Linked DNA regions of Homo sapiens. The protein of the gene in region 1 interacts with the protein of each later gene in a pairwise test. Each region holds a gene or a part of one and is shown on either strand. Other genes may lie near its edges. The genes, in order: CKMT2 and NRF1.

The links.
Region 2: the proteins of CKMT2 (region 1) and NRF1 interact in binary tests that used the Homo sapiens proteins (3 or more experiments, as listed by UniProt).

The regions. Positions count from the first base shown.
Region 1 is NC_000005.10:81,264,184-81,267,072, reverse strand, and holds the end of CKMT2 (creatine kinase S-type, mitochondrial precursor), read right to left. Parts: intron 935-2,889; coding exon 815-934; 3' UTR 675-814; downstream 1-674. UniProt on the Homo sapiens protein: Reversibly catalyzes the transfer of phosphate between ATP and various phosphogens (e.g. creatine phosphate).
Region 2 is NC_000007.14:129,614,652-129,621,963, reverse strand, and holds part of NRF1 (nuclear respiratory factor 1), read right to left. Parts: intron 1-7,312. UniProt on the Homo sapiens protein: Transcription factor that activates the expression of the EIF2S1 (EIF2-alpha) gene. Links the transcriptional modulation of key metabolic genes to cellular growth and development.

The DNA.
Region 1 (2,889 bases):
CAGGACAACAGAACTCTCACCCACAACCTCTAAAGCAACCGTTCTAGGAGACCAAACCCTAACCTCTGTAACAATCAGTAAAGGATGGTCAGGACTTGGTCAATGACTGCTGGCTTCCCTAATTTTTGCCCCTGCCTCAAACTCAGGACCAATCAGATAAAACCAAATATGCTTCCCAAAATAATCACATAGCATACCCCGCTTCTAGGTAGCCTGTCTCCAACTTCCCCATGCCTGCAACCCCAATCAGAGCATATCTGAAGCCTCCCCTTTCTTTCACCATGAAGATTTCTCATGTCTCTGCCAAATGCAAGTGATGATAGCTGACACCCTTGTGAAAGCAAAGTCTGAATAAATAAGTAGCCTCTCTTTGTATAGTCTTTATTTCCACACTTTCAATAGGTAAGTCTCCTCTTGCTCCATTTGCCAGAAAATTGCTTATTATATTAATTTAATTTCTCACTTTCCAATGGGGTCCATAAGATATTTCCAAAAGGGTTGACTAACATCTGGATAGCTAATGGGTTATTTAGAGGTGTGTGTAAGTTGTGGCAAAATCAAAACTTAAAATATTAGTTTTATTGTCTTAAAATATTTTGCTTCTTGTCTACTTGTAATCGGATGTGTTTGCCCTTCTTAGTATTATTTTAAAAATCAGAGAAACAAAGCAAAGATATATTAAGGAGAGTTTTATTGTAAAGATAGGCAGGATCTACAATTTTATATTTTTCCAAGTGTATAAAAACTCTCAGAGTAGAGATTTATGTCTGTCGTACCAGCAGACAGATTATTTATAAATTGGGAAAGGGAAAGTTTACTTTTTGCCAAACTGAGGCAGAGGGGGTGGCACCTTAATATCTTGGCCTCTCTCCAACTTCTTTTCACAATCCACCAGGTAATTGACTCCATCGATGACTATCTGAACAAGCTCAACCTTTGACAGTGAAGAAGATGAATGATTAATTTGAATAGAAGCATCTGCAGGGCATTGATTAACAGGAACAGCACTGTGATAAATGAGAACTTGCCACTTAGATGGACTTCACAACAATTCCTTCCTTCTCAGAAATGGAAGGCAGAGATATAAGGGTTTCTCTCAATCTTTCCATAGTTAAGATGGGGATACTACTTTGTATGTGAAAGCTTTTTTACTATGTGAAAACCATTAGTTTGCATCTCTAACATTTTTTCCTACCAGTGTCTGCTATAAAATATCAGAGTTTGTCTAGAAGTAAGACTACAGTGACACCCTCGTGTTATTCTTTGGCCTGGATCTGAATTCTGACCTGCCACTAATCTATCTGAGCACTGGATATGCTAATGTAGCTCAGATATCATCATTAATACAGTGGGTGTCTTCCTGAAAAATTAATGTCAAATGTTTGGCAACTAAATCATGTTTGTACTATGCTAGGCAAGCTTATTAATGAAATGAGTTTTGCAAATTAAGATATACTTTCTAAAATTCCTGTTCTTAAAAAACTCTGTATAGAACTTTGGTTTCCAAATATTTGTTTTCCTTAAACCAGAGCACATCTACTTAATTTTTTTTTCCCCTGGGATCACCTCCTAAGCAAATGACTTGTACTGCCCCCAAGGAAACCCAAATTAAGAGAGAAATTAGTTAATTCCAGACATACATTATACAACTAAAGAATGAGCAGCAAGGATGGAAGGGACCATTGAATGTTAGCTCTCAGGCATCACATACTCCAGCTGCCTCCCTATCTATCTCTTTATATGCATAAGGAAACTTAGGCCCCAAGAGAGGGTTGAATCAGAATGTTAGTCACTACTAACTAAAACACATATTTTCTATTTATCCTTTTGATCCCTTCCAGTGTTGGTGAGAGTATGGTGAGATAGGTCTCTCACTCACTGCCAGTAGGACTCTATCTTGGTATAAATCTGGTAGAAAACTTGATTATAAATAGGGAACTCTGGTTTTAACCCAGGAATTCCTTTTCTAGAAGTATATCCTAACTAAATAACCAGAGTTGTGATTAGAATTATGTAGAGAGATGGTCAAACATAAAATCAGGAAAACATTAAATAGGTAATGGATTATCTTTACTGTGATTAAAAATCATGTTTGTGAAGAATACTTAATATTGTGGGAAAATGTTCATGATATAATGCATTGGAAAAAAATTATAACCAGTATTTGGTTATAATATTAAACATGTATTATAACAATTTTTTCAAGTTTTTTGGGTAGTTTTTAAAAAGAATGAAGGGCCATTTAGAATAATGTTCACAATGGTTATCAGGGTTGTTGGGTTAAATAAATGGTGTTTTTAAATTATTTTTTGGCATTTTCCTCACTTTTATAGTGACTGCCTAGTATAGTTAGACTTAACATTTTTAAAGCATTAACTACATTGTTTTCCAGTAATAAATATCTAGTTAATATTAGAATCAACAGGGATAGACTCCCAGATTTTCTTTATTCACTACACCACACATTATTCAGTAAATTTCAGAAGTTGTGGTATTATAGTTACATGTCCCTCAAGTACTTTACCAGAGCTGATAGCACACTGGCTGATCTAATTGTTTTGAGGGTTTCTTCCTTTCCTTTTCCTCAGTGTACTTACTGGTAGGGATATTGATAGGCAGTGAAATATTCAAAAACTGGTAAGGAAGAAGAGAGAACTTTGATAATCCACAGATTTAATAACCAGTCACTGAATTATTAAGGGTTTTGTTATGAGAAGAGGCTTTAAAATTAATGATGGGCATAATATGTCCAATGGGACCACATCCAGATAGGCTGGTATAACTTACCATGATCAGTATTTGCTTAGCATTCAGCTGCATGTTCCTTACATGTGATCTTTTTGCCTCATTCATTGTTTCAGGCCACACAAAGTCTATGAATCCTTTTCA
Region 2 (7,312 bases), on another chromosome or scaffold:
TAAAAACACAAAAATTAGCCCGGCATGGTGGCGGGTGCCTGTAATCCCAGCTACTCAGGAGGCTGAGGCAGGATAATCGCTTGAACCCGAGAGGCGGAAGTTACAGTGAGCCAAGATCATGCCACTGCACTCCAGCCCGGGCGACAGAGCGAGATAGTATCTCAAAAAAAAAAAAAAAAAAATTCTATGGAGAAAAACTTTTAAAATAATAGAGCCAAAAATTAAAGAAGACAACAATTTTAACACTCAGTCGCATTACCACATAATTCTGGTAACATATCAGAATTACTTCTTCTTTAGACTTAGCACCTACAGCTAGTTTTGGGGTAAGAGACTAGTTCTATGATGGTATTCCATGATGTGTTCTTACTTAGCAAATCTTGGCTAGTTCTTTGATTTGTGGGCTATTTTTACATGGAAGATCTGTTACCAAAAATTTTATTTCATAATTGTTTAATGAAAGAAAGAACCAAAAAAAGTTCCCAAAGGAAAAGACAAAATACTCCATTCTATCTGGGCCCTCTTTGGAGATTTACTGAATGTAAAGATCATCCACAAACACAAGCTAATTACAAATCACATAACACAAGTTTAAGATTACCCAACATATTTATTCATATCATTCTTGTATTTACCAAGACTACTGGTAAAATAAATAAAAGTTGTAGACCCTCTCCCCAGAAAAATCACAAATTAATCCCAAGTGGCATTAATTTATTTTGAGGGTGGCAAGCAAAAGTATGGATATCACTGCCCCAGAAACTAGGGCCTAGCTGACAAAACTGCCTCCTAATCTAATTTCAAAGATGCAAAGATTAGCAGAAGGAAGTAAAAATTACCAATTATCTAAAATTTCAAAAAGAAATATTTTGGAAATCAAGTAAGATCTAGTGAACACATAATGTGCTTGAATTTCTTAATTTTATTCACGACTTTAGAAATGTGAATGCCAGCAATTTCTTAGCATTAAATCATCCTGGATCTCAAAGTATTCCATAATCGTCATATTTCAGAAAGACACTACAAAAACCATCAACGGTATTTTCATTTCATGGTCAGAAAAAATTTGCAAGGAGAAAATAAATGTCTTGCCCCATATCACTAGACTGAAATATTTGTGCATTTAAAATTTTTTCCAAAGCATAAGCAACACCTAACTTAAAAATGAATTTTTTCTGACAGATGAGCCAGCTTGGTAGAAAAATTTTTTTCCAACAAGCACAATCTATCAATTTGTTTTCTTTCAAAACACTTTCCCTTTAAAACAATAGTAATTTGGGCCCAGTGCGGTGGCTCATGCCTGTAATCCCAGCACTTTGGGAGGCCAAGGCGGGCGGATCACAAGGTCAGGAATTCAAGACCAGCCTGTCCAATATGGTGAAATCCCATCTCTACTAAAAATAAAAAATTAGCTGGGCATGGTGGCAGGCGCCTGTAATCCCAGCTGCTTGGGAGGCTGAGGCAGAAGAATCGCTTGAACCCGGGAGGCGGAGGTTGCAGTCAGCCAAGATCATACCACTGCACTCCAGTCTGGGTGACAAAGCGAGACTCTATCTCAAAAAAAAAAAAAAAAAAGTGATTTGATTCCCCTACCCCATAAAGCCTACTGTATCTACAGTGCATGAATAAACATATACTAAGTGTCAGTCCTAGAGTATAAAAAAACCAAGCAATCCAGAGACTTGACAAAATTCTGAAATCGGTTAAGCTTTGCTTTGGCATTCCTCCTACCTTCCTTCTGGTGCTCCTACTCCCATTTCTAAGAAGTTCCTCGTATCTTTCCAAAGTTCTTCACCTGAGACACCTACTCAAGATTTCTTTCCCTTGATCTGTCTCACTTGTTGAGATAACTGATTTCAGCCAACGAACACAACCAACACTTGATTTAATCATTAACATTTAGTAAAGGCCCTTGACTTTTCTGTGTGTCAACAGCCCCCTTGAAAAATCTCATAAATGTTGTGGACCCTCTCCCCAGAAAAATCACACATGCACTCACACATAACTTTTCAAACAATTTTAAGGGATTCAGGGTCACACAGCCAAAATATATAAACCCCAGAACCAGAAAACCCCAGGTTAAAAACCCCCATACTTAACATATTAATATCATAAAACCTCAAAACTCTGCAAGAGGTTATTTGTATTTTAAGACACTGTCAACTCAAATGAAATCTCCAATTCTCAGAATTTAAGACAATGTAAAAGAGGCAAAAAAAAAAAAAAACAACCCAAACAATATGGAGATTTTTAGGCAGCCTTGTCATTGGGGGTCATCTCCCAAAGCATTTAAGCTGCAACTCCCATTGCAGAGAGACATGGAAGAACAGGACCTATTTCTAAGCATGGGTCTTCTACTAAGTTAGATTCTGTAGGACCTACCCCTGAATTTAGTAATGCTCTAGAAATCTATTCTGTCTAAACTATCATGGTTCCCAGCAAAACAATACATATATATATATATATATATATACACACACACACACACACACACACACACACACGTGTATATATATGTGTGTGTGTGTGTATATATATATATATATATATATATATATATATATATACACGTATGCCAAGTCCAGTTTTTATCCCAATGATTTTTTTTTTTTTAATAGATACGAGGTCTTGCTATGTTGCTCAGGCTGGTCTTGAAGTGCTGGGTTCAAGCGATCCTCCGGCATTGCCCTCCAAACCAATGAACTCTGTGGTATTTCACACGGCTAACTTCCCTGTCAGTATTCACTTAATCCCTCTCTTCAGCTTCTTCAACCCTATAACCTTATCTGTTTAGCCATTCTTTCTCAACTTACTTCATAGGTTTCTATTCTTCTACTTGACCCTCAGATGTAGATGCTCTTCAAGGTTGCCCTTAGTTTTTTTTCTTCACTCCTGATATGGTTAAGCATTCCTAATCCAAAAGTTTAAAATCTGAAATGCTCCAAAATCTGAAACTTTCTGAGTGTTGACATGATGCCACAAGTGGAAAATTCCACACCTGACCTCAGGTGACATGTTGCAGTCAGAATGGAATCAAAACTTTGTTTCCTGCACAAAATTATTTAAAATATTGTATAAAACTGCATCCAGGTTGTAAGATGTATATGAAACACAAATGAATTTCAAGTTTAGACTTGGGCCCTATCTCCAGGGTATCTCATTATATGCATACCAACATTACAAAGTCAAAAAAAACTCCAAAACATTTCTGGTCCTAAGCATTTTGGATAAAGGATACTCAATCTGTACTATTTTCTCTTTCTTTTTTATAGACAGGGTCTTACACTGACACCCAAGCTGGAGTGCAGTGGCCCTATCATAGCTTGCTACAGCCTCAAACTCCTGGGCTCAAGTCATACTCCAGCCTCAGCCTCCCGAGTAGCTGAGACCACAGGTGGCTACCACTATACCTGACAAATTTTTTAAATTTTTGTAGAAACAGGGTCTCACAACGTTGCCCAGACTGGTTTTGAACTCCTGGCCTTAAGTGATCCTCTGCCTTGGCCTCCTAAAGTGTTAGGATTACAGGTGTGAGGCACCATGCCTGGCTTTCTGCAGTTTCTATATGGCATTATACTGATGAATGCAAATCCCCTAATTTATCCCAATGTCCCCTTGAGCTCCAGCCCAAATACCCAGGTACTTACTTGACCTTTCTTGATTCCCAGATATCTTAACACATCTGGAGTCATACTCTATTACCTTCCTCCTCAAATTCTGTTCTTCCTATACATTCCCTATCTTAAAGGCATCATCATCACCCAATAACCACACTATAATCTTTAACTCTTTACTCAATTGTCACTCAAATCTGACAACTGTGAAGTAAAAATTATCCCCAGAATCGATGTCCTTTTACATCACAATTCAATACTCTCACAAGTCTCTAGTCAAATCTTTACATGTCATCTTTTTAAAAACCATAGTGGATGTCCTACTCAAACCTCTTATGGTCCCTAAATGCCTATAGAATAAAGTTCACACTCATGAGCATGGAATTACAAACTCTTCCCAATATGGCCACAACCTTATCAGTTTCACTTTCCACTATTCTCCAAGTCGAGCAAAATCCACTTGCTAGTTCTCAAATCAGACTACTGATGCCCTTCCTCTCAGCCCCTCTTCTCCATCAGTAATGCAGCTACTCCCCCTTCCAAGTCCTACTCAAACTTCCCCTATGTGAAAAGTCTTCCCTAACCTCACTTTTCTCTGTGTATCATTCTCCTCTCCCTAGAAGGAATTTCTCCCTCCTCCTATAATCCCACACCACTCTTTGTTTGCTCTATTTTGGTTCTCTAGAAGTTGTAACATAGCTAGTTGAGCCCATACCTTTCTGCTCTACACGACAAGGCCCAAGATTTGTTACTCTAGCACCTAGTACATGCCCAGAATGTGGTATATCTTTAATCATCGTCAGGTGAATGAATGAGTGGCAAAACTCCAAAGTGAGAATACACTTAAGGAGGTTATTTCTTAATGGAGAGAATGCTTCACTCTCCTTTGAACATAAAACAAGAATCAGGTCCCCTAGTCCCCAACTCCCCATTTCTAGTCCACTGCGCAAACAGTTTTAAGCAATGTTTCATTGGGACATTTCCTCATTTCCCCTTGTTCTTTGTAGGTTTAGCTGCCAGCCTAACCACATTAGCATTCAGTAGCAGCAACAAAACGGACTCTTAAAGTTCTAAAAAGCAAAAACTTTACAATTACCAACAGTAAAATACATGCTCTTTTTAAAAAAAACTGTCTTAATATATATGCATACAAAGCTCATTCTTCATGAAGATTCAGAAAATGGCTTGGCATAGTTTATCCCAACAGGCACCACTTAAAGAGTTCTTAAGAAAATGTCCACTTAAGCCATCAGCCAAACTTTTCACATTTGTTACCACAGAAATCAGCATGCATGAATTAATCGAAATACAATGCATATTAAACAATGCAATTACTATAGTCTAAATCACCAAACTGATAACCCATACAAAAGTAGCTCTTACAACTTTTTTTGAGAATATTTCCCCTAAAAAATTCCAGTGATCATCCCAACCTACAAAACTAGATTATTTTACTAGTATCATCTTCTCTTTACCCCTCTTCTCCCCACCAACACTCCCTCCAACACACACACACTTCTCCTTAAGAGAAACGGCTTCCTCAAGAAATTATCTGATGGTTCAGTAGCAGTTGGAGTTTTACACAAACTATGTTGTGATTGGGCAAGGCAGACTACCAGATCTGGGATTCAGTAGACCATTCCTTACTGTCAGATTATCTTCTAAGTGACTGCTCTTAGAGAAACAACACAGATTTGCCTCAAGAGATTACAAATGTGGTAGGCCTACCTTAACAGCAACTAGTTTTTTTTAAGAAACACGGTCGCACTGTCGCCCAGGCAGGAACACAATGGCATGATTATGCTCACTGCAACCTCAAACTCCTAAGTTCAAGTGATCCTCCTGCCTCAGCCTCCTGAATAGCTCAAACTATAGGCATATGCCACCATACCCAGCTAGTTTTTCGTTTTTTTGTTTTTTTAAATATTCTGTAAAGACAGGATGTCACTACATTGCCCAGGCTGGTCTAGAATTCCTAGCCTCAAGCAATCTTCCTGCCTTGGCCTCCCAAAGTGCTGGGATTATAGGCATGAACCACCATAACCAGCCATTGTTTTCTAATATACTAGAACATCTCTGTAAAGTTTTATTTCTAGCCCTTCTTTGGGTCATAGAAAGTTTACTTGGTATCACATAAATGTTCACATTTTAAAACATTTTAGGCCTAAAGACCACAACATGATGAAGCCTTTTGGATGTTTTGCTAACTACACTGCATTAAGTTGGGCTGAAAATACATTAGCCCAATTCTGAAGTGCACTTTTGAAAAAATAAAAAATATATATATGTGTGTGTGTATATATATATATTCTAAGGTATAAGCAATCCACTTATTTTTCTTGAGCAGTCAAAAATTCCTTTCCCAAGTTTTGTCCATATTGCACTAAAATAACTTCAAACAAAGCATTGTTGTTGCTTGAGGATTAAAAGTTTCCAATAGCTCAATATGGTTTTAATCTCCTGGAAACACCTGAAATTCATTTGTTTCACCTCCTTTTACTATTTATCTTCCAGTCTGTTTACCTTAGTAGAAAACTGATGGATAAAAGTACTAACTGAAAACCCAAGAAAGTGGGTAATCCACCCTCTAGTTAATAAGGAAGGAAATATGATACACAAGGCACAAAAATTAACATGTATCTTGAGACTCAAAAAACATTGGACTTGGTCTAAATAAAATGTTTCTAAAATAACAAGTGGATTCCTTTTTCATTGCTGTTTTACTAAGCATTCATGGAAAATTATATTTGGGTAAGCTCAGGCTGAAAACACTAGCTTTAGCTATCAAGGAAAACATGAAAGAACATAAAGAAAATGTATTTTAGTATAGAACATTTCCTGAAATGTTTTTTACAAAATCAAAGATTTGCATTTTAAGATTGATTTTCCAAATACTCTATATATACATATTAATAAGCATCACACAGTCACACACAAACATCTAAATTCAGATATCCCATTTCCTAGATGATTACTGGCCCAGAAAGGGCGCATCTAAACTCTTGAGGTTAAAGTAGACATTTGTGAAATTCAACAGCCCAGGGAGTTTCCCCTCACCCTTCAATTTTTCACAGTGGCACTGTGTGAATGAATAAGCCTGCTTCAGCATGAAGCAACAGGCTTGTCTAAAGACATCTGACAGAAGCTGAATGTATACATTAACTTCCTGTTGAGGTAGGACTGTAGACTGTTTCTAAAGACTGACAGTTCATAGTTCCTCCAGAAACCAAAAAATCAGCATGCCTTTTCAAATACTCAGGGAAAAATTTTAATTTCAGTAATTACTGTTCATTGTTATTATTCTTCAACTTTACTGAATGCCTTATTCCATACAAGAAAAGGCATAAAAATTTAATCCCAGACCACAGGAGCTTAAATTTCCCTTAAAACAAGTCACTCATTCGTGATTATTTACATAAAATGCTTCTAAAGACAACCCAGAGATTTGGTTGAACCTACAGTGTGCAGGCAATGCAAATTCAGGTATTTAAATCATGGGAAGTTGGCCTTCGGTTCCCTAACAAAATTAGACAAGTGCATAATTATCGTTTAATAAAACAAAAAACCTACAATTTGGGGTCCTAACGACATACACAGGAATTCAGAAGGAAACCTGAAATCCTTTCTCCTTTAAACCTTCTATATCTGGACAAGGGCCCTCATTATCTTCTACTTCTATAGCTCCTTCTCTTAACACA